Homo sapiens: one gene and its partners. The protein of the gene in region 3 purifies or fractionates together with the protein of the main gene of each other region. This does not show direct contact. Each region holds a gene or a part of one and is shown on either strand. Other genes may lie near its edges.

Region 1 (3,500 bases), about 22 Mb from region 3:
TCGAGGCCATCCTGGCCAACATGGTGAAACCCCATCTCTACTAAAACTACAAAAATTAGTGGGGCATGGTGGCACGCGCATGTAGTCCCAACTACTCCAGAGGCTGAGGCAGGAGAATCATTTGAACCTGGTAGGTGGAGGTTGCAGTGAGTGGAGATCACATCACTGCACTCCAGCCTGGTGACAGAGCGAGACTCTGTCTCAAAAAAAAAAAAAATAATAATAATAATAATTGGATACATAGAGATGGCTTCCCCAGCTGTCCTTAACTCCACCAACAGGGGTCAAAGGGAGGCCTCTGCACTAAGATTAAGTTTGCCACTCCCCAATGGGAAAAGGGTAAGCTCTATATTGGGACTAACTCTATACTTCCCAGGCACCTCTGCCCTTTCAACACACAGGGTCACCATCATTAGCTGCCTTGAGGGAACCAGGACAAATCTCAGTATCTCCATCATTCCTATTTATGTGCATCTCACAAAGGGTCATATCCTTCCTCTGCAGTCTTCCTCACAAGGGTCTGTACGACCACTAACCTTCATCTCCTAACCTTTCCCAATGCCTGAAACTTTTCCACTGGGCCCTCTAGAATTATCAGTCCATCATCAGCAAACACCCTCTGTCCTCAGTCTTTTCTGAGCATCCCCCCTTTACCCTCGTGCTCTGATAACCCTCTCCTGCTGCTTCTGCAGCTCTCTCAAACACTGTTTTTGTTTTGTTTTGTTTTGTTTTGTTTGTTTGTTTGAGACAGGGTCTCGCTCTGTGGCCCAGACTGGAGTGCAGTGGCATGATCTCAGCTCACTGCAACCTCCGCCTCCCGGGTTCAAGCGATTTTCCTGCCTCAGCCCCCCGAGTAGCTGGGATTCCAGGTGCATGCCACCACGTCCAATTTTTGTATTTTTAGTAGATGGGGTTTCGTCATGTTGGCCAGGCTGGTCTTGAACTCCTGACCTCAAGTCATCCACCCACCTTGGCCTCCCCAAGTGCTGGGATTACAGACATGAGCCACCATGCCCGGCCCTTTTTTTTTTTGTACTTCCACAGCTTCCTACCACTGAATCTAGAAATGGAATAGGTGTCCTCTTGCTTTCCTTGCTGGTATTTTCCCTCCATCTTCCCTAAAAGTCCCAGGTCTTAATCTCGTCTCTTCAAATTATATACACTAACTACTTATCATTGCCAAAATCCCATTCCTTCATCACCATTTATTAAATAGCTCCCAACTTGCACTCCCTCTAGACTATTCCTGTCTTAATTTTTGGCAATTTCAATGTACATCTAAGTAGAGGATCTCCCTTACAAATGATCTCTCAATTTCTGGTATATCTCCTCTTACGGTTTGGATGTCTGTCCCCTCCAAATCTCATGTTGAAATGTATTCCCCAGTGCTGAAGGTGGGGCCTGGCAGGAGGTATCTGGGTCATGGGGCAGATCCCTCATGAATAGCTTTGCACCATTCCCTTGGTGATGAGTGAGTTCTCGCTCTGGTAGTTCACACAAGATCTGGTTGTTTAAGAGTGTATGTTACCTCCCCACTCTCTCTGGCTTCCGCTCGAGATATGACGTGCCTGCTGCCCCTTCACCTTCCGCCGTGATGAGAAGTTTCCTGAGGCTGGCTGGGCGCGGTGGCTCATGCCTGTAATCCCAGCACTTTGGGAGGACGAGGTGGGTGGATCACCTAAGGTCAGGAGTTCAAGACCAGCCTGGCCTGAGGCCTCAGGAAACTGAGCTCAGAAGCTGAGCAGATGCTGACAACATACTTCCTCTACAGCTTGCAGAACCATGAGCCAGTTTAAACCTCTTTTCTTTTTCTTTTTCTTTTTTCCTTTTTTTTTTTTTTGAGACAAAGTCTCACTCTGCCACCCAAGGCTGGAGTGCAGTGGCGCAATCTTGGCTCACTGCAGCCTCCACCTCCCTCCTGCCTCAGCTTCCCAAGTAGCTGGGACTACAGGCACCCACCACCATGCCCGGCTAATTTTTGTATATTTTTAGTAGAGTTGGGGTTTCACCATGTTGGCCAGGCTGGTCTCAACTCCTGACCTCAACCACCTGCCTCAGCCTCCAAAAGTGCTGGGATTACAGGCATGAGCTGCTGTGCCCAGTCAAACATCTTTTCTTTATAAATTACCCAGCCTCAGGTATTCCTTTATAGCGAAGCAAAAAATGGACTAACCCACCTCCCTTCCAAGGATCTTGCTATCTATCCCTTCTTGCCCTCAGCTACTCACTCCCACAGTCATATACCAGATCTCATCATTAGACAATTGTAATCCCTACACAATTTAGTTCCATGTATCCTCTCTCTAACCACTATTCCTCATCTTTCCAGGTCATTCTCTCTAGACCCGAATTCCAACAACCCTTCAACCACACTGGTACCACTAATCTACAGATTACATCTTCTTTCTACTATACCTTGATGTGTTCCTGAATATCTCCCGAATCCTCTTCATCCAGTTTAATTTCAAGGTCCATCATTATAATCATTTTCTTACATACTCCCTCACCTCTCCTGCCCCATTAATACTGTCCTAGTAAAATCTAGCTCTCTACCCACTCCATGCCTGCCCCTATGCTGCTGTAAGTAGCCAGAGAAACACATATAATAAATGCATTCACACAAACCTTCTAACATATCATATAATATTGTCTGATGTCTTCCTACTAGAATGCCTCTCAGGCAGGAATTTTTTTTTTCTAAACTAATTTATTCACTGAAATATCCCAGTGCCTAGAATAGTGCATGTTAAATAGTAGAATCTCACTCAACATTTGTTGAATGACTGAATAGGAGTTCCAAAATAGAGAACACAGCATATGGGAGGGGAAAAAAATCAGTAACAAAATCATTCAAGAAATTTTCCCAGAACTAAAGGATGGGAGCTCCTAGAATTGACAGGGGCCCAGCATCACACATGAAAACTTCAAATCACATGACTATCTTCAAATTACACCAGAATGCTAGAGAGAAAGAGAATAGGATACAAGCTTCCACAAAGAGGAGAAAAATAGATCACAAATCAGAAAAGATCAGAACTCAAAATGTTCATGAAAACTCAACAGCCATGCTCGAAGTCACAGCACAATGAAGAAATGTCCTTTTAAAAAATCTTAAGGAGAACCATGGCAACTCAGGATTCTCTACCCAGCCAAACTATTTTAATCAAGTGAGAGGGTAGAATGAAGACATCTTCAGGCCTGCAAGGTCATGAAAAATTAACAATCCACAAACCCTCTTCTCAGGAAGCTACTGGAAGATGTACCAAAATAAGAGAATAAATAAGGAGAAAGGCATGAGACACCGGAAAAAGGGAACCCAACCTAAATCACATGCAAAGAAAATCTCCAGATGCCAATGAAGGGTGACCACATCTATGTACCGAGAGGGCAAGTCACTAGTTTAGAAAGGGACAAGTCAGATGCACCAAGATTCAACAAACTGGAACTGAAATAACACCAGATGCATCTGAAAATACTGAGTGGGATTAATCTACTCTTGG
Region 2 (3,500 bases), on a different chromosome or scaffold from region 3:
CACCATGCCCAGCTAATTTTGTAGTTTTAGTAGAGACAGGGTTTCTCCATGTTGGTCAGGCTGGTCTCGAACTCCCGACCTCCTTGGCCTCCCAAAGTGCTAGGATTACAGGCATGAGCCACCGCGCCCGGCTGCTACAAAAATTTTTTAAAAATTAGCCAGGCATGCCAGGCGCGGTGGCTCCCACCTGTAATCCCAGCACTTTGGGAGGCCAAGGCAGGTGGATCACGAGGTCAGGAGTTTGAGACCAGCCTGACCAACATGGTGAAACCCCGTCCCTACTAAAAATACAAAAATTAGCCAGGTGTGGCGGCACATGCCTGTAATCGCAGCTATTCAGGAGGCTGAGGCAGGAGAATTGCTTTAATCCAGGAGCCGGGGGTTGCAGTGAGCCGAGATTGCACCACGGCACTCCAGCCTGGGCAACAGAGTAAGACTCTGTCTCAAAAAAAAAAAAAAAAAAAAAATTAGCCAGGCATGCAGCGCACACCTGTAGTCCCAGCTACTCAGGAGGCTGAGAAGGGAGGACCAATTGAAACTGGGAGGTCGAGACTGGGAGGTCATGATCACGCCACTGCACTCCAACCTGGGCAACACAGCAAGACCCTGTTTAATAATAATAATAATAAATAATGCAAGTGGGTATAAGAATTTATTTATTTATTTATTTATTTATTTATTTATGAGACAGGGTCTCACTCTGTCGCCCAGGCTGGAGTGCACTGGCGCAATCTCGGCTCACTGCAAGCTCCGCCTTCCGGGTTCATGCCATTCTCCTGCCTCAGCCTCCCGAGTAGCTGGGACTACAGGCGCCCGCCACTGCACCCAGCTAATTTTTTGTATTTTTAGTAGAGACGGGGTTTCACCATGGTCTCGATCTTCTGACCTTGTGATCTGCCCGCCTCGGCCTCTCAAAGTGCTGGGATTACAGGTGTGAGCCACCGCTCCCGGCCCTAAGAATTTATTTTATCCCAGCACTTTGGAGGCTGAGGCGAGTGGATCACGAGGTCAGAAGATTGAGACCATCCTGGCTAACATGGTGAAACCCCGCCTCTACTAAAAAAATACAAAAAATTAGCCGGGCGTGGGGGCGGGTGCCTGTAGTCCCAGCTATGCGGGATGCTGAGGCAGGAGAATGGTGTGAACCCGGGAGGCGGAGCTTGCAGTGAGCGGAGATCGCGCCACTGCACTCCAGCCTGGGCAACAGAGCGAGACTCCATCTCAAAAAAAAAAAAAAAAGAATTTATTTTAAGACAGCAAGCTCTAGGGTTGAAGCCAGTCTCCACCTAGCCCCAGGCCCAAAGCTATAAGCATGGCTACTGTAACATCTTTACTCAGGACACCACCCTTCAGGGGCCCAGACCCACACCATCAAGGAGGAGCGTCCACACCAGCAGCTGGGGAGAGGGTGGTTCCCTACAAGATGCAATGTCCACTCTGAAGAGCCATTATAGTGATAATCATGAAATCCATGCCTGAGATCTAATTTCAAGTGAAAAGAACAGAATTCAACATTCATTCTATGGGGAGTATAAAACTCTGAAAATATACGCCTTTCATAATTAAATCAAACCCTATGTCATGTTCCTGAGGAGACAAGCACTGAATGGAACACAGAAGAAATGCTACAGCCAATGATTGTTGAAGTTTTCCTTTCAATTTCCTGTTCATGTTGTTTGGCAATAAGTAATACAGAAAACTGACAACAAAAAGCAAAAGAGAAAGAAAAGATACAGTGTACAGTTTAGATTGCTTTCCTTAAAAAATTAAATAATAATAATAAAAAGCATAGGCCGGGTGCGGTGGCTCACGCCTGTAATCCCAGCACTTTGGGAGGCCAAGGCGGGCGGATCACCTGAGGTCGGGAGTTCGAGACCAGCCTGACCAACATGGGGACACCCCGTCTGTACTAAAAATACAAAATTAGCCGGGCATGGTGACGCAGGCCTGTAATCCCAGCTACTTGGGAGGCTGAGGCAAGAGAATCGCTTGAACCCGGGAGGTGGAGGTTGCAGTGAGCTGAGATCGCGCCTTTGCACTCCAGCCTGGGCAACAAGAGCGAAACTCCATCTCAAAAAAAAAAAAAAAAAAGCATAAATGCAAGCTGGGCGCGGTAGCTCATGCCTGTAATCCCAGCACTTTGGGAGGCCGGGGCAGGTGGATCACCTGAGGTCAGGAGTTTGAAACCAACCCGGCCAACATGGCGAAACCCCATCTCTACTAAAAATACAAAAATTAGCCAGGCATGGTGGCGCGTGCCTGTAATCCCAGCTATTCAGGAGGCTGAGGCAGGAGAATTGCTTGAACCCAGGAGGCAGAGGTTGCAGTGAGCCAAGATTGAGCCACCACACTCCAGCCTGGGTGACAGAGTGAGACTCCGTCTCAAAAACCAAACCAAACCAAACCAAACAAAACAAAAAAAAGAAGCGGCATAATACAAAGTCCCGGCAGTTAAAGCGTTAACCCCCAGCTACCAGGAAGGCTCTGCTATCCAATGACTCATCGCCCCAGCCAAGGTCAGCCACACCTTGGGTCTCTGATGCTGGAGGCAACATGATGCCAACACTGGCGAGAAATCCACCACCTCCTCCTCCCCGCCCCTCGGTGCCGGCCTCTGTGTGCACTTGCAGCTCTTCCACTACCGGTGCCTCCATGGTGTCTACGCCACCGGCTCACCTCCCAGCAATAACCCGACAGCCCGACACCTCTGTAGACCCTGTGGCTACAGAGCTAAAGTTCCCTGTTATTAGTGGGTTTTGCAGACAACCCTCCAAATCCCTCTGGGTTGAGTTAGTCAAGTCCTTAACAAGCTGGAAGATGACAGGGGTTGGATGTAACCCACTTCCAACTGGCTTGGGTTACATGGACATTATTCCTCTTCTGGGATCTGATTTGGGATGGAAACAGGAGCCATAGTTCATGGGAAGGCTGTGAAAGGAAGCCCCGGCCCCAGGGTGCGGATCAGGTTGATCTGCGGAACAAGGCCCCAGGGGCGGCCCACCCGCCTGCTCTGCCCAGCCCTTCCTGGTAACCACACTCACCCGGGGCCCATCTCAAACCTGGCAGGCAATGCTGCTGCTCCCATCTCAGCCGCTGCCCCAACACGCCTCGCCTGGCCAGGACAGGTGCCCAGGCATGGCATTCAGGGACATCCTCGGCTTCCGGGGCCCAACCCCTGGTTCCCAGGTGCAGCGCTGGGAAAAGCAGAGGGCCCCGGCCATGGCGCAGGCCTCGTCACAGGTCATTTAAGCAGCCTGGGAGGAGCCGGAAAGAGAGCAATGCACCCACCTGGACAGAGACTGAAGCCACATCCCCATTGAGAAAAGATGACACTCCTGCCTGGACCCCTTCTCTGAAACCCCAGGCCGGGGTGGGGTAGGAGTCAGCGAGAGAGTCCAGCGCTCCAAAGGGGACTTTCTGGCCCTCCGTGCCCCCTAACCCAGCACTTCTGGGGACCCACACACTCAGGGCAGAGTGGCCATCCAGGGTTCCTCTCACCC
Region 3 (3,500 bases):
CTGTTCACTGGATCTGTTTCCTTGTTTTTCTTTTTCTCTCCCCGTTTCCCTCTCTGTCCCATCCCACCTCCCTGTCCTCTTTTCTACCCCTCACTGTTCCCCTGCAGGGAGGGGTAGAAAAGCCTCTGGCCTTCACTTGGGGAGAGAAGGCCAGAAAGGCTTCCTGGAGGAAGGGCTGTCCATCCTCTCTCTCAGGCACTTTCTACTTTTCAATCCTTATATACAAAAGACCTTTTTTTTTTATTTTTTTATTTTTTTGAGACAGGGTCTAGCTCTATCACCCAGGCTGGAGTGTAGTGGCGCTATCACAACTCACTGCAGTCTCGACCTCCCAGATTCAAATGATCCTCCCACCTCAGTGTCCCAAGTAGCTGGAACTATAGGCGTGCACCACCATGCCTGGAGAATTTTTTATATTTTTGGCAGTCTCGCCATGTTGCCCAGGCTGGTCTCCATCCAACTCTTAGTCTCAAGCGATCCTCCCGTGTTGGCCTTTGAAGGTGCTGGGATTACAGATGTGAACCACTGCATCTGGCCTAAAGAAGATCTTTCCAGCAGTAGAAACTGTCCAGCAGGCCGGGCGCGGTGGCTCATGCCTGTAATCCTAGCACTTTGGGAGGCCGAGGCGGGCAGATCACCTGAGGTCAGGAGTTTGAGACCAGCCTTGCCAACATGGTGAAACTCTGTCTCTACTAAAAATACAAAAATTTAGCCAGGCGTGGCAGCAGGTGCCTGTAATCTCAGGTATTCAGAAGGCTGAGACAGGAGAATCACTTGGACCTGGGAGGCAGAGGTTGCCGTGAGCCAAGATCATGCCATTGCACTCCAGACTGGGCAACAAGAGCAAAAATCCATCTCAAAAAAAAAAAAGAAAGAAAGAAAGAAAGAAAACTGTCTAGTAGCGGGGTGAAATGTCTTGCCCCATAGTCCAGCTCCCCATCAGGGAGACAATCCAACAAGGTAGAGGAATCATCTTTCCTGAGTGTTGAGGGTGATTTGAACTTCTCCATTTGGGCAAGAGTGCATGATCTCTGACCCTGGGATTTTCCCAATATGCATTGCTCCACAGCTCAAGGTGGTTTCAGGATTCCCTGCCCCCACCCAAGCCGTGTATTTACAGCTGTAGAGCTAGGCCTCATGCAAGAGCAAATGTATTTGAAGATAAAATATTTTTCTTGTGAGAAAGAAATCTTTATAAATTTTTATTCTTTAATTTATTAAAAAATGCATCATAGATGTACATAGTTTCAGGGTATGTGATCATTTAATATGTTTATATAATTTGTAAAGAGCAAATCAGTGTACTTGGAATATTTATCACCTTAAATATTTGTCTTTATGCTGGAAACATTCAAATTATTCTCTTCTGGTTATTTTATTTATTTATTTATTATGTATTTATTTTTTAGAGGCAGAGTCTCACTCTGTCAACCAGGTTGGAGTGCAGTGACACGACCATAGCTCACTGCAGCCTGGAACTCCTGGGCTCAAGCAATCTTCCTGCTTCAGCAAATACCTGGAACCACAGTGATGCGCCAACAAGCCCAGCTAACCTTTTAAATTTTTTGTAAAGACGGAGTCTCAATATATTGCCCAGGCTAGTCTTGAACTCCTGACTTCAAGTAGTCCTCCGGCCTTGGCTTCCCAAAGTGCTGGGATTATAGGTGTGAGCCACCATGCCTGGCCTCTTCTAGCTATTTCAAAATGTATAGTCCATTATCGTAAACTATAGTTGCCGTACTGATTTATCTAATATTCGGTCTTATTTCTTTTTCTTTCTTTTCTTTTTTCTTTTTTTTTTTTTTTTTTTTGAGACAGAGTCTCTCTCTGTTGCCCAAGCTGGAGTGCAGTGGCCATGCAATCTCAGCTCATTGCAACCTCTGCCTCCCAGGTTCAAGCGATTCTCCTGCCTCAGCCTCTTGAGTAGCTTGGATTACAGGCACCGGCCATCAGACCTGGCTAATTTTTGTATTTTTAGTAGAGACAGGGTTTCACCATGTTGGTCTGGTTGGTCTCAAACTCCTGACCTCAGGTGATCTACCTGCCTCTGCCTCCCAAAGTGCTGGGATTACAGGTGTGAACCACTGTGGCCGGCCTTGTTTCTTTTATCACAATGTATATCTGCACCCATTAATCATCCTCTCTTCATTGCCACCCCCTTCCCACCTCTGGTAACCACCAGCCTACTTTCTATCTTCATGAGATCCACTTTTTTAGCTACCACATATGAGTGGGAACATGCGATATTTGTCTTTCTGTGCTTGGTTTATTCACTTAAGATAATGACTTTCAGTTCCATCCGTGTTGCTGCAGATGACAGGACTTCATCCTTTTTTATGGCTGAATACTATTCCATTGTGTATATATTGCCACATTTTCTTTATCCATTCATCTGTTGAGGTGTACTTAGGTTGAATCCATACTTTAGTTATTGTGAATTGTGCTGTGAAAAACAAGGTGGTGCAGCTATCTTTTTGATGTATTTGGTTTTCTTTCTTTTAAATATCTACTCAGTAGTGGAATTGCTAGAGCATTTGTTAGTTCTTTTTTTTTTTTTTTTTTTTCCTTTTTTGAGACAGGGTCTCATTCTGTCACCCAGGCTGGAGTGCAGTGACACAATCATGGCTCACTGCAGGATTGACCTCCTGGGCTCAAGCGATCCTCCTGCCTCAGCTTCTTGAGTAGCTGAGACCACAGGTGCAGGTCCAGCTAATTTTTTTTTTTTTTTTTTTAGATACGAGATCTTGCTATGTTGCCCAGACTGGTCTTGAACTCCTGGCCTCAAGTGATCCTCCCAGTAGTTCTATTTTTAGTGTTTTAGGAACCTTCATACTGTTCTCCATAGTGGCTGTACTATTTTACATTCTCACTGACAAGAGTTCCCCTTTCTCTGCATCTTTGCCAACATCTGTTATTGCGTGTCTTTTTGATAAAAGCCATTTTAACAGGGGTGAGATGATACCTTGTAGTTTTGGTTTGCATTTCTCTGATGATTATGATGTTGAGCTTTTTTCATATACCTATTGACCATTTGTATGTCTTCTTTAGAGAAATATCTGTTTAGATCTTTTGCCCATTTTTAAATCGGATTATTTGGGCTTTTTTGCTATTTGAGTTGTGTGAGCTCCTTATATATTTTGGTTGTTAATCCTTTGTCAGATGAATAGGTTGTACGTATTTTCTCTCATTCTGTGGGTTGTCTCTTTGTTGATTGTTTCCTTTGCTGTGCAGAAACTTTTTAGACTGATGTAGTCCCATTTGTCTATTTTCGCTTTGATTGGCTGTGCTGTTGAGGTCTTATGCAGAAAATCTTCCCCTAGTCCAATGTTCTAGGGTATTTCCCCAATGTTTTATTCTAGTTGCATCATAGTTGGAGGTCTTAGATTTAAGTCTTTAATCCATTTTGATTTGGCTTTTGTGTATAGTGATAGATAGAGGTCTAGTGTCATTCTTCTGCATTTAGTTATTTAGTTTTCCGAGCACCATTTATGGAAGAGACT
Region 4 (3,500 bases), on a different chromosome or scaffold from region 3:
AATGACTTCCAACCTAGAATTCTGTACGCAGGCAAAGTGCCATTCAAATGTGAGGGAAGAAAGGGCATTTTCAGCCAGGCATGGTGACTCATGCCTGTAATCCTGACACTTGGGGAGGCCGAAGCGGGCAGATTCCCTGAGCTCAGGAGTTCGAGACCAGTCTGGGCAACATGGTGAAACCCTGTCTCTACTAAAATACAAAAAATTAGCTGGGTGTGGTGGTGTGCACCTGCAGTCCCAGCTACTCGGGAGGCTGAGGCAGGAGAACTGCTTGAACCGGGAGGTGGAGGTTGCAGTGAGCCAAGATTGCACCACTGCACTCCAGCCTGGGCAACAGAGCAAGACTCTGTGTCCAAAAAAAAAAGCATTTTCAGACAGACCTGGTTCAAAAAATTCACCTCCGATGAATTCTTTCTCAGGAAGCTACTAGAAGATTCACTCCACCAAAAGATGAAAGACACAGAATCCAGAAAGGGGAATTCAACAGAGGAAAGAGACACGAAGAATCCCTGCAAGGAATGAAAAGCACTCCAAGGAGGACTGCTCAGTAGCAGGCCCGCAGGACACCCGGCCCAGGCTGAAACAGAAAAGTGGCAGGCCTGGAAGGGATGAAGGTGATAAGATTATGTGAGGTGTTTAATGGAGGAGTTCTAGTTAAAAGCCTGGCACTAAATTCATGACTGTACATTGAAAACCAAGCTAAAGAAAATTCGGCCGGGAGCGGTGGCTCACTCCTGTAATCCTAGCACTTCAGGAGGCCAATGCGGGCGGACTGCTTGAGGTCAGGAGTTCAAGATCAGCCTGGCCAACATGGTGAAACCCCATCTGTACTAAAAACACAAAAATTAGCCAGGCATGGCTGGGCGCGGTAGCTCACGCCTATAATCCCAGCACTCTGGGAGGATGAGGCAGGTGGATCACGAGGTCAGGAGATGGAGACCATCCTGGCTAACACGGTGAAACCCTGTTTCTACTAAAAATACAAAAAAAAAAAAAAAAAAAAAAAAAAAAATTAGCCAGGCATGGTGGCGGGCGCCTGTAGTCCCAGCTACTCGAGAGGCTCAGACAGAATGGTGTGAACCCAGGAGGCGGAGCCTGCAGTGAGCCGAGATCGGGCCACTGCACTCCAGCCTGGGCGACAGAGCAAGACTCCGTCTCAAAAAAAAAAAAAAAAATTAGCCAGGTGTGATGGTGGGTGCCTGTAATCCCAGCTACTCGGGAGACTGAGGCAGGAGAATCACTTGAACCCGGGAGGCGGAGGCTGCAGTGAGCCAAGATCATGCCACTGCACTCCAGCCTGGGCAACAGAATGAGCCTCCATCTCCAAAAAAAAAAAAATTTACTCCATGGGATTATTATAAGAAAAGAAAATAAAGAAAATTCACTCCAATAACACAAAACTATTTCCCTTAGTAAACTGTATCTTACATGGCTTAGCTGTGAAGACAGTTACCTAACAATAAGAATGCAGACACTGAATTACCAATTTAAACAAAATTATATAAACATATTTGGAACACAGAAAAAGAGCAAGGGGTGAATGTGTTTCAGGCAGTGGAGGGACAATGTAGAACAGTTCTAAGGCCTCTTCTACAGCAGAAGTCAGCAATGTCTAAAATGGTAAAATCAGAAATTAGCAGTACCAGCATGCTACACAGAAATATGAAATTTAAGGCAGGCATTGCTAAGCACCCACCAATATCCAAGGATCTTCTATAGTAACATCCCACCCCCGGCCTGCTTGGCTGAAGGAGGGTGGGATGGCCACCGTCTCAGATGGTGGCCTGAGGGTGGGAAAAGGCCACAGCCCCGGAGGCCTCTTGGAGCAAGGCTGTCCAACTAGCACTGACTGCTGACACGTCAACTTCACGTGAGAGAAATCAACCTGATTTTATTTAAGTCACTGTCACTTTGTTCTCCATTACTGGCAGCTAAATGTGATCCTAACTAAAATGATAAGTAGAAACAGAGCAGTTAAAAGTGGTAGTCTGTGGGAAGTTGGAGCGCGGAGCAAGCGACTGGTAGAGGGACTGCTGTCTTGCACTACAACCCAGTAGTACCGCTTAGTTTCCAAAACTAAGTAAATGCATTACATTGATAAAAGTTAAATGATGTTAAAAGAAAATCACCCCATGGGGCATGGTGGGAAGTGCTGTTAACCTTAACTTTTTTTATTTATTTGAGACAAAATTTTGCTCTTGTTGCCCACGCTGGAGAGCAATGGCACAATCTCGGCTCACTGCAACCTCCGCCTCCCGGGTTTAAGTGATTCTCCTGCCTCAGCCTCCTGAGTAGCTGGGATTACAGGCGTGCGCCACCAGCCCGGCTAATTTTTGTATTTTTAGTAGAGACGGGGTTTCACCATGTTGGCCAGGCTGGTCTTGAACTACTGACCTTGTGATCCACCCGTCTCGGCCTCCCAAAGTGCTGGGATTACAGGCATGAGCCAACACACCCGGCCATAACCTTAACTTCTAAAGCTAAGATTAGATGCGTCTTTTGGGGTCAATTTCAAATTCTAATACTGAATTGTGGATATCAGACTTTTTATTTTAAAGGCAACAGAATATGAAGGCATTGTAGTTTTGGAAAGGCAGAGTGATGAAGAGAGTTTGAGACTGATCTGGCAGAGGTATTTAAAACTTCAAGTGGGAAAGGCATTCATTTAGGCCTGAGGACCTGAGAGCTTTACCTAGGTCCCTGACAATGAGAATAGAAAGAAAAGGCTAAAATAAAATAAAGATATTTCAAAGCAGGCACCTGCAAGGAGGCCTGAGGCTGACCGCAGTCCTGTGAAGGACAGAAATGCTGGTTAGAGGGCTGTTTGCCCAGAAACGGTTAGGGAAAATGCTCAGAACCTGGTTTACCCAACCTGAGTGGGGAGTGGGCTGGAGGGCAGGTTAACATGACCTCCCCAAATTCCTAACATAGCGGAGCGCAGTGGCTCACACTTATAATCCCAACATTTGGGAGGCCAAGGTAGGAGGATTACTTGAGCCTGAGTTCAATTCCACCCTGGGCAACACAGCAAGACCTCGTTTCCACAAAAAATAAAAAATTAGCCAGGTGTAGCGGTGTATGCCTATTGTCCCAGCTATTCAGGAGGCTGAGGCTGGAGGACTGCCTGAGCCTGGGAAGTCAAGGCTGCAGTGAGACATGACAGAGCCACTACACTCCAGCCTGGGTAACAGAGCAAGACCCTGTCTTGGGGGGAAAAAAAAAAATTCTTAACAGTTTTCCAACCTATGACTCTGCAATTTTGGAGGTCAGGGAAATCATCACCTAAATTAACACTGGGAATCACCTTACAATAGGTCCCAAATGTTCTCCAAAGACTCTCCAATCCAAGGACCGAATTTGAATGAAATTATATCATTCCATTCAAATTTATGTTTGAATTTCTAATTCCTAAGAAAAACAAAAATCCAAAGAAGTTCTCTATTACACATCGATTTTTTGCAGTTTTAATCAAAAAACAATTTTGTTGCCACTGTTACCTA
Region 5 (3,500 bases), on a different chromosome or scaffold from region 3:
TTATAAATAGCTTAAACACTACATGTAGAAAACTGCTTTATTAAATGAAACTTAAATAAATGGAATCTCATACACCAACAAAAATCATACTATAGAAAAACTATTTTTGAGGGAAAGGCCTTCAAAATAGGTTACATAAAAAAGTAAGCTACAATTCAGATTTACAGTGAATTCAATTTAATGGGAAAAGACTAGAAGGATATTTCTCAAAATGTTAACAGAGGCTTCTCAGTGGTAATGAGTGACTATTCATTGTGCTTTTCTGTATGTTCCTGTTTTTTTTAAAAAAAACATAAAAAATCATGGCATAGGCATTTGGTAAATATCAGCTGACTATTTTACATACATGTTTAAACAATGATTCTTTAAAACTTCGTAAGTATAAAAAGTTGGGAGGTTCACCCCTCTTCATCAAAAAAAAAAAAAAACTTAGTAAAACACTTGACTCTTCCTTCTCAGTTCTGAAGTTATTCCAGTGTCTTAGTGTTCACTGGATAAACTAGATTATATATGCAACACACACTGCCTCAAAGCAAGTGACCATAATGTAAGTAAGCAAATCCATGTTGTAGAGGGAGATGAACCAATACTGTTTATCAGTAAGGAATGTTTTGCTTCTTATAAACTGTAGTTCTACTACCTAAGTCTTTTAAAAAGTGGCTCTTTGTTAATGTGGACTTTTCTAGTTACAGAAAACTGCTGATACCTTTGTTGGTATTTTCCGATGCAGTCTTCAACAAGGTTAGAATGTCCAGATTGTCACCAATTCTTGCATAGTAAGAACTATCATGGCCAAGCGCATCCAGCAAGCTTATATCAGCACCATTTTTAATTAAGACTTCTACTGCATCTCTGCAACCATATTCGCAACCTAGCATGAGGGCAGTTCTAAATGGAAAAATGGAAGAGCAAAAGACTGAGAAAACTCCAAGGAAATATTGCAGAAATATTCTGCCCTATTGTTGAACACTGTCTTAGTGTTCACTGGATAAACTAGATTATATATGCAACACACACTGCCTCAAAGCAAGTGACTATAATGTAAGTAAGCAAATCCATGTTGTAGAGGGAGATGAACCAATACTGTTTATCAGTAAGGAATGTTTTGCTTCTTATAAACTGTAGTTCTACTTGAACACTAAGTTCAAGTAAGTGTTCAACACTACTTGAACACTTACTTGAACACTAAGACATGCTCCCTTCTTGAAGAATAGACACTACTTTAAGAAGTCATGCCTGTTACAGATATAGATTTTACTTTATATTCATTGCATTTATAAAAACATTTGCTTTGTCTTCTATATCCTTATATCCTTTAATTACTTCTACTACCAAACCAACCTCATTTATTCCACTTCTTCAATGTCCTACACGTAAATAATCACCACAAAAATTTTCCACAACTGATACTGTCACCCCATGTGATCAAAACCCAACTTTTTCAGTCCCTTCATGAACTGAACCACATCATGCAAACCTCCCCTAAGAATCCCTTCTCCTCCAAGAGAAGTATCAGATTCCATTCCTGATGTTCCTGCTTAGAAGAACCTTGATTCTTCTACCTGAAGACCTTCACATCTTCAGACTACAACTAACGCCATGCAACATGGATCATTGCTTTATTCTATTGCAATAGAACCACTGGCACTCAAACATCTCACAGTACATCAGCAAATACTAATCATGCAACAAAATAATTGTCATGAAAATCTAGAAGGACCCTAGAAATTATTTTGTCTAATCCTCTATTTTTTAGGATGGGGCTAACCAACACGTAATGAAATGAAATGACATATCCTATATCTAACTCTGTCTTCAATTGTGAATATTGGATCTCTTAAGGAAACTGACTCTTGCCTTTTCTCTGCTATGTATGCTGTGTTTCTCATATTCAAGCCTTGTCCCCCAACTCCCCTGTAGTTGCTGATAAGAAATTCTGTACAAAACAGGCATTAACAAAGTTTTTGTTATTTAAAAAATGCTACATATAAAACAGGAAAAAAAGAAATGAATATAGAGTATTAGAAACTAAGGTTATAAATTATGTTGAAAACCATATGCTATTTAGTCTATACAATATACACTGCCCTGCTTCATTGGCTTTTTGTGAATGCCCAATGAAAAAACATAGATAAAGTGCTTTGAAAAATGTGAGAGCTATAAAAAATATAAAGCACTGTATGTAGATCAACCAGATTATCCCTCTGTGATCCTAAAATTAAATTTAACTTTTTTTTTTTTGAGACAAGAGTCTCGCTCTGTTGCCAGCGCAGTGGCATGATCTCAGCTCACTGCAACCTCCGCCTCCTGGGTTCAAGGAATTCTCCTGCCTCAGCCTCCTGAGTAGCTGGGATTACAGGCACGCACCACCACACCTAGCTAATTTTTGTATTTTTGGTAGAGATGTGGTTTCGCCATGTTGGCCAGGCTGGTCTTGAACTCCTGACCTCAAGTGATCCGCGCCCAGCCGTAAAATTTAATTTTAAAATCCAATTTTCTTCATCATGCTTGGAATCAGATGATAGTATCCACAAAAACAAAGTAATATTAAAAAGCCACTTCTTAATCACATCTTTTTTTTTTTTTTTTAATATTTAAAGAGGTTTATTCTGAGCCAAATGTTAGCAACCATGGCCCATGACACAGCCTCAGGAGGTCCTGAGAATGGGTGCCGGAGGTGGTTGAGTTACAACTTGGTTTTATACATTTTAGGGAGACAAAAGTTACAGGCAAAGGTATAAATCAATACATATAAGGTATACATTGGTTTAGCTCAGAATGTCAGGACATTTCAAAGTAGGGGCTTCCAAGTCAAAGATTTCCTGATTGGGAATTGATTGAAAGCATTAAGCTTTGTCTGGAGAATTGAAGTCAATATAAAGAAATGCTTGAGTTAAGATAAGGGGAGTTGTAGAAGCCAGGGTTCTTTTTTTTTTTTTTTTTTTTTTTATACTTTAAGTTTTAGGGTACATGTGCACAATGTGCAGGTTAGTTACATATGTATACATGCATCATGCTGGTGTGCTGCACCCATTAACTCGTCATTTAGCATTAGGTACAGAATTTCCTCCTTTGAGATGCATAAAGAAAACAATTACAGCTATAAAATCTGACAACTAAAGACTATTTTTTATACTTTTATACTTCTAATAAACTACAAACAATAGAATACATGTTTGGAAGAATAAAATTAAGTCAAAAGAAACCAAAATTTTTACTAGTAACTACAAAAATCCCAGAAATTTTAGTTTAATTTATTGTAATACTTGAATTAAATGGAAGGGGTGTGTTTCAGATACTTTGTGACCATAAACTTCAGAATTGTAATACAACAAGCACCATGATACATTAGACCTACAGACAGAGATAGGGAGAATTCTGGATAGAAATTATTAGAGCACACCAACTAAAATAGTATCAAATACAGAAGCAAAAATAAAGCAAGGGACCTCTGCAGTACAGAAATGGACAGGTTCAGAGTAGGAGATGGCACTGTACCC
Region 6 (4,037 bases), on a different chromosome or scaffold from region 3:
ATTTGTTCTTTGTTGCTCTCATCGCCACCTGCATGTTATTTTTTCATGTATTGTTTTATCACCTCCCTCAACCAGAAAAATAAGACCAATCAGAGCCAAGACTGTATTTCTTCACTGTTCTACCCATGGTGCCAAAAGCAGTGCCTGGAGCATAAAGTATGAATTAAAAAATTTGTTGAAGGGCTGGACTCTTCCCTTGTTCCTAGGTGAAGTAACAAATACCCAAGGGCTTATACAAATGTAGAGCCGGTATCCTAGAAGAAAATAGCTCTGAAAACTGTACTTATAATTTGTACTAACAGAAATGTTATCACTAAGTAAGATAATGTGAGAAATGGGGGAAAAAATCATAAGAAAACAAGAGCAGATGAAAAGACAAAAGGCTTAGATGAAAAGGAGCAATGGTCAGAAAGGATTTTGGATAAGGAAACGAAAATGATGGCAGAATTAAGGCATCCTCTGGGGACAGTGGAAAACAGAATTAACAAGGCAGAAATTGATAGTGGTTTCTTCATTCATTTATTCAACCACTGCATATTGAGGGCTGCCTCTGCATACACATCAGGCAGAGAACAAGGCAAAAGAACTGTATCTTCATAAACATGCAGTGAGATGAACAAGCCCACGTGCTGCTTATAGGAGTCGAAGCCAGCAGTGCCTTTCTGGAAACCACTTTGGCAATATATACTATGAGTGTCTTAAAATGCATAATCTCTGAGCAACTATTTCATGTCTATGAAAATAATATAAAGAAAGAGATGATCATAGAGTATCACAGAATTTACATATTTATATATAACATGCACATATTAAAATGTTTGATCTTAGAAACAAGTGAAAAATACACAGTAATGGAATTATCAACTAAATATTACCAAGGCCAAACAATGGAGCACTATGCAACCATGAAAAAAGATAAAAATAATTTTAAGAACATGGAAAAATTCACAATCTATACTTATAAATAATTATATGCAGAATGAATTCAAACACAGAGTTCTTGTCTTTGGAATTTGGGATTCAGAATTATATTCTTTATGCTTTGGGGCATTTGACAAGTTATCCTCAAGGAACACATTATTACTTTAATAATAATCAGAATAAGTACTAAATAAAATTTTTATCTCCCACATTAGCATTTCTTACATATTTTGAACCTATTCCAATACAGTTCTCAGTTCCTAGAATCCTCCATTCCACTTACATTATTATAAAAGATTCCAGTAAGTTTAAATTTTTGCTCAAAGCATGCTAAAGTTTTGTATCCTTGCATTCCCGCTCCAGATTTTTTAAACAAGAGACTACATTTTTTGCTTTATAGATATTCTAAGCTCACTGTTGTCTTCTCCTTTTATCATGGGGTTAGTAAAAGATTTTATTCAAATGATCCAACAATTCATCACTCTCACCATACAAATATATTGTATCCAAAAACATAACTTTATCAAAAATAAACTTCCTTATTAAAATGTTTCAGTAAACACATCCAGACTGTGGCATAGTTTCGAAGGTATACACCATGTCAAAATTTGTCAAAGTATACACTTTAAATATATGCAGTTTATTACATCAATTATACCTTAGTAAAGCTACTGGATAAAACATAACATCAAAAAAGGCCACATACTGAAATATGGCTAAAAGGCCTGAGGTCAGACACATACACCTAAGAAAAAGACGACCCACTCGTTAAATGCATCAGCAAGTTTATTTACAAATGCAATTGAACAGAAAGGCTCACCAGTTTCTGAAGAAGACTTCTAGTATACAAACCATGGTTATTTTTCATTAATGAAAATAAGCAGCTTTCTATTGGGAATTACTTAGCAACATTTCTGGTAAAGAAAATAGAGCTCCCTTCATCAAGCAAATAAATGGTACATTAACTGCATTTTTAAAAATCAGAATAATAGGTAGAAGGAAGGATACAGAAAGCACATTTGGGGATAGATTTTAATGAAATTTTCCATATGGTTCTGCATTAATTTAGAATACATTACAATAAACAGAGCAAATGCAATTATGTATTTATATTAACTATTTCAAATAATGTTTAAGAACCTTTTTTTAAAAAACAATAAAATACCCTCTTCAAAACACCACTAACTAGAAAGTCAAACTAGATCATTATCTGCCTCAAAAATATTCGTAGGTTCTTATTTTTTCCCTTGTGCTCTCAAGATGCTGAATTCAACAGGTAAATACTGCACTTTTCCCCACACACAATTACCTTATAAATAAACAACAAAAATACTGGTTCTACCAAGACTACAATGCTTCTATGTAATCTAAAGAGGCAAAAAAAGTTATTCTTTTTTTTAAAAAAAAAGCAAAAAAGACATACAACACATATTTATAGATCTACATGAGCAGCAACCACCTCTTCTTCTATCTGCAACAGTGCTTTCGTATGGAGGCTTACATCACATGGCGGTTGGCCGTCCAGCTGATCGGGCAAGGAGAAAAGAAAGAAAAGTGCTTAGATTCAGAAACGTGAATATTGCCATCTGGGATACATAGCAGTCATCACTCAGAAAGTGGCCCAATGAGGTAGAAAGAGTAACCTGTCACTCACTCTTAGGATAAAGCTAGGCAAGTCTCAGTGTCTCGTCTCTGGAATTCTTTATTTGTAAAAATGGAGTAAAAATGAACTGCTCACAATAGAAATAAATTACACTCAACTCTCTATTATTTGTTTTGGAGGAGAGAAAAGGCATGGGCAATTTTACAATGGTGATTCCAGAAATCATTTCTATTTGGCTTTGGAATTTGATGAGAGAGAGAAAAACACACACACATACACACACCCCCCACCAGTACATGCCCAGCCTTGACTTTCTCCAACCTCAGTGTCAGCATCCAGGAAAGGACTGGACAGCTGCAGCAGGAAGGCTCAGAACCCACCGACAGATAAAAGAGAGTTGACTGGGCTTAAACCATTTCCAAAGCACTCTTCACATAGGGGCCATATAAATACCTCAGAGTTCAAAAGCAAATGATTTTGCTGATACCACTTGTAACACCCTTTCACAATAAGGAAGAAACACATGTTACCAGCATCAAGGTTTAAAATATAAAACAGCAGTAATACTTGTCTTGCTGTAGCTATACACAACACACAACCTAGTTATGCTAGCCTACCTTTTATAACACACAAACACATGCTTAGATGCAAAGTAGCATTTGAAGTTTTTTGAAAAACTCATTTTTTCCAAAAATGACACTGAAACACCATAGTTAATACTTTCCTTTTAAAATTATATATTGACATATATTAACATAAAGCATAAACTGACTTATTTTGTATTACATGGAACAATATTTTTTAAAGTTGGTCATATTCTAAATCACATAATCAAAGCCCATTGTTAAATAATAGAAGTTGATGAGGGACCAATCTTTAGTCAAGAAACAAATCCTACATAGAAGATTCATTTAAGTGTTTTGGTTTGTTTGTATTCTTGAGTCATTAAAGGTCTCTGCGGACTCTGGGCAGATAACACAAGACACCATCCTGACTTTTGGACACTGTTCCTCTCCATTCCTTGGCCCCACAACCCACTCCTGTGTAGCTGGAACCCTGAGCAGTGACCCATTCACTATACACACTCTTTGAAGGGAACACACTACAATTCTTGAAACCTGGAATCCTATGGCAGTGAACTTGGAGGGGAGCTCGCTGCAGGTTCAGGGAAATGCATGGGAACCCGTGGCCTCCTTAAAAGGCAAGAAATTTTCTCTCTGATTTGCTCTCTTACATTTGAATCTGAGATAGCAGTCGTTGCAGTACAGTTGGTGGTTTCTGATCCTGACTTCAGCTCCTGAGGAAGAGCCTCCGAGGTCACACTCACAGGCAACACACTGGGGAACAAAAAAAAAAGAACATCTACAATCAGTCAGCTCAAGAAAGCTTGGGGCACTCCTGGGGGTGGGGGGGAAATGAGCAGAATGCTACTTCTAAGCTCTTAGATACATTTCAGCAAAGAAAAAAAAAGGCCGAAAGATGATTAGTAGATTCAAATCAAGACCGCCAGATA
Region 7 (2,880 bases), on a different chromosome or scaffold from region 3:
CCCTAATTTGGTGCTGTCTGGCTCTTAGAGTGCACCCAGGGAGATCCCTGGAGTGAAGGAGTCTACAGGCAGAGCGCTAATTTCCAAGTATCAATGCTCCTGGAGAGCTGAGTTGTGATATTACTCCCATTCCCTGTCTATTATAGGTCGAAGTACAGCCTGGGGCCTCCAGGACTGGTCACGACCTTCCTGGTCCCTGGTATTGACTATCAGCTTCCTTGGCCACCTGCTATGAGCCTGTCTCTACAGTAGAAGGAGATTGTGGGGAGAGAAATCTTAAGTCATAATGAATAAAGTGCAAACAGAAGTGCATCCTGATTATTTTCAGAAGCTGATGAGGAATATGGGTAAAATGTTAATGCTTTCCACCCACCTGAGAATCAGTGTTCCTGGGTTGCCATATCTGGAGTCTCTTTCCATCATAAATAATCCCACTGCCTCTTTTCATTTCCTGAAGGCTGCTCCCTCCTCACCCCACCATTAGAAGTAACACAGACAGCTGCAGCATAGCAAGGAGTCTTTACTAGGATGGAGGCAGGGGATGCGGGGGCAGGTCCAGAGCAAGTAGAATGGGCCATCATTAGAATGAGCAGAACTCCTGGGAATCTTGAGTCATCAGCTGGCGATGGGGAGTTAATGCTTGGTGTGGATGACAGGTGTGGGGATGCGGATATCCTGGCCTCTCTCCAGACGCCGTTCACAATCAATCAAATAGTTTACTCCATCGATGACCAGTTGCACCAGCTCCACCTAAGGGACACTAATCTTTGATCTGCTTCCTACAGTCTGAGTTTTTCTTTATCACTGACTGACTTGCCTGCTCATTTCCAATTGCCTCCCCACTCAACCTGAATTTCATTTCAGATTATCTTACATCCCGGAGGCTCACTCACTGCCATATTTCGGCCCTCGCAGACCTATACCTCTCCTTGTCCTAATCCCTTAGGATCTCACCTCTGATTTGCCTAGTCGGTCCAAATTAGAAATATCAAAGACACCGCCTGTAGCAGCAGTGTCCACTCCTCCAGTACCACGTTTTTGGAGTCTTAGGTTCTCCAGGATCTTTGGGAAGCGGCTATCCTAGAGAGGAGATAGGGATTGGGAGCAGGGTCAATAGAGGCAGAGACTAGTCCTACCTGAAAGAGCCCTGAACCTGCTCAGAGCTCTGTCTCCTGAACTTTTTTTTTCCTTTTTTCTTTTTTCTTTTTTAATTTTTTTTAGACAGGGTCTCTCTCTGTCACCCAGGCTGGAGTGATCACAGCTCACTGAAGCCTCGACTTCCCAGGCTTAAGTGATCCTCTCACCTCAGCCTCCACTACACCCAGCTAACTTTTGTATTTGTAGTAGAGATGGGGTTTCACCAGGTTGCCCAGGCTGGTCTTGAACTCCTGGGCTCAAGTAATCTGCCTGCCTTGGCCTCCCAAGTGTTGGGATTAGAGGCATGAGCCACTGTGCCTGGCCTGTCCTCTGACCCTTTAGCCACAACATGTTTGGCTCCTTTCCAAAGGGTCCACTCCCTCCCCATCCACAACCCACCCTTCCTTACTCACACCCCTCTGTAACCCCACAACTCCTTTACTTTGCTTAGCAGGGGCAGTTTGATGTGCACTCCTGCCCGAAGTCCAGTGCCCAGGTTAGATGGACAGGTCAAGATGTATCCCAAACGCTCATTCCACATGAACTCCCAGCCACGTTCTTGGATAAGTCTCTCCACCTGAGTCCACAAAGGTTTTGTTAACGAAAAATCAGGGATATTTCATTAACCCTGGACCCTCCCTTAGCTAGACCCACAAGAACACTAGAAATATGTCTAGAACAGAAACTTGGCTGTGAATGAATGACATTGGTCTTTTTTTAAATGAAAAAGGTTTGTTATTGTTTTCATGCATGCATGATGCAAAATTATGATGTGCATAATAATGAGATTGTGAAAAAATATCTTATGTGGAAGAAGAAAACTCGAAGGAGTGGTGTATTAAGGATGATCTAGGGAAATGAACAGAGGTGGTAAACTGAACTGAGAGATGACTGATTATTCAATGAGGTCTGCATGCATCGATTATCTTTGCTTTGCTAATGAGCCTAGAGCTTAGAAGGGTCCCTTCAGACAGAAGATGAAGGTGTAAGCTTTGCCAGGAAGAGGTAAGATAACATTCTGTTAGCTGTGAACGGAGCACCTGTGTGAATGCAGAGAAAGATGAAAACAGAGCAGAAAAGCCAGATTCATAGGAATAGGGGGCGGGGGGAAGGCGTTTGGCTTCACTTAACCATGTAGTCATGAAGATGACTATTAGAGTTCAAGAGACAAGGGATCTAGCAGAATGATGGTCACAAAGACCACAACCCAACATGAGTAAAGGGATCCTCTTTATAGTTCAGAAGGAACCATGCCATAGGGGATATCTTACATGCTGAACATGGGGGGAAACTCTTCCATCCAGAATAATATTGCAGCTAACACTTTAACACTTATTAAGCACTTACTGTGGACCAAGTACTTTACCTGTATTTCACTTAATCCCCACAACAACCTAAAATGTAGAAAATCTCATTATCCCAATTTTACAGATGAGGAAACTGAGGCATATAATTTAAAGGTACTTCCCTACCCACTCATAGTCAGAATATGTTATCTATTACTTGCCAAAAATAGTAGAAACTTCTCAGAATCTAAAAGAGGAGCTCTTTTTCTTTGCAAACCTAAAATAGAACTGTATGTTTGAGAACATACAGTAAGAATTGAATTGAGTTTATGGGGATTTCTAATGTAGACTTGAATACGGAGACCCAATCCATGTAGGATTGATGATTCAGTTCAACCTCTCATCTAGAGCCACATATTCTAGAACTTGAACCATTCTATCCTCCACCTTCCCCAGT

What was found.
Region 1: the proteins of FGD5 (region 3) and LRRFIP2 purify together in Homo sapiens (affinity purification with mass spectrometry, with the first as the bait; one large-scale study listed by BioGRID). This does not show direct contact.
Region 2: the proteins of FGD5 (region 3) and SEPTIN9 purify together in Homo sapiens (affinity purification with mass spectrometry, with the first as the bait; one large-scale study listed by BioGRID). This does not show direct contact.
Region 4: the proteins of FGD5 (region 3) and CDC42BPB purify together in Homo sapiens (affinity purification with mass spectrometry, with the first as the bait; one large-scale study listed by BioGRID). This does not show direct contact.
Region 5: the proteins of FGD5 (region 3) and UACA purify together in Homo sapiens (affinity purification with mass spectrometry, with the first as the bait; one large-scale study listed by BioGRID). This does not show direct contact.
Region 6: the proteins of FGD5 (region 3) and LMO7 purify together in Homo sapiens (affinity purification with mass spectrometry, with the first as the bait; one large-scale study listed by BioGRID). This does not show direct contact.
Region 7: the proteins of FGD5 (region 3) and CKMT1B purify together in Homo sapiens (affinity purification with mass spectrometry, with the first as the bait; one large-scale study listed by BioGRID). This does not show direct contact.

Annotation. Positions count from the first base shown.
Region 1 is NC_000003.12:37,059,583-37,063,082, forward strand, and holds part of LRRFIP2 (leucine-rich repeat flightless-interacting protein 2), read right to left. Parts: intron 1-3,500. UniProt on the Homo sapiens protein: May function as activator of the canonical Wnt signaling pathway, in association with DVL3, upstream of CTNNB1/beta-catenin.
Region 2 is NC_000017.11:77,287,999-77,291,498, reverse strand, and holds part of SEPTIN9 (septin-9), read right to left. Parts: exon of another isoform or gene 3,289-3,500; intron 1-3,288.
Region 3 is NC_000003.12:14,891,962-14,895,461, forward strand, and holds part of FGD5 (FYVE, RhoGEF and PH domain-containing protein 5), read left to right. Parts: intron 1-3,500. UniProt on the Homo sapiens protein: Activates CDC42, a member of the Ras-like family of Rho- and Rac proteins, by exchanging bound GDP for free GTP. Mediates VEGF-induced CDC42 activation.
Region 4 is NC_000014.9:103,047,550-103,051,049, forward strand, and holds part of CDC42BPB (serine/threonine-protein kinase MRCK beta), read right to left. Parts: intron 1-3,500. UniProt on the Homo sapiens protein: Serine/threonine-protein kinase which is an important downstream effector of CDC42 and plays a role in the regulation of cytoskeleton reorganization and cell migration. Regulates actin cytoskeletal reorganization via phosphorylation of PPP1R12C and MYL9/MLC2.
Region 5 is NC_000015.10:70,683,559-70,687,058, forward strand, and holds part of UACA (uveal autoantigen with coiled-coil domains and ankyrin repeats), read right to left. Parts: intron 889-3,500; coding exon 707-888; intron 1-706. UniProt on the Homo sapiens protein: Regulates APAF1 expression and plays an important role in the regulation of stress-induced apoptosis. Promotes apoptosis by regulating three pathways, apoptosome up-regulation, LGALS3/galectin-3 down-regulation and NF-kappa-B inactivation.
Region 6 is NC_000013.11:75,856,330-75,860,366, reverse strand, and holds the end of LMO7 (LIM domain only protein 7), read right to left. Parts: intron 3,862-4,037; coding exon 3,759-3,861; intron 2,447-3,758; coding exon 2,424-2,446; coding exon of another isoform or gene 2,354-2,423; 3' UTR 501-2,353; downstream 1-500.
Region 7 is NC_000015.10:43,597,027-43,599,906, reverse strand, and holds the end of CKMT1B (creatine kinase U-type, mitochondrial precursor), read right to left. Parts: intron 2,532-2,880; exon of another isoform or gene 1,715-2,531; coding exon 1,580-1,714; intron 1,081-1,579; coding exon 955-1,080; intron 751-954; coding exon 634-750; 3' UTR 501-633; downstream 1-500. Other genes in the region: STRC (stereocilin precursor), read left to right, coding at 147-235. UniProt on the Homo sapiens protein: Reversibly catalyzes the transfer of phosphate between ATP and various phosphogens (e.g. creatine phosphate).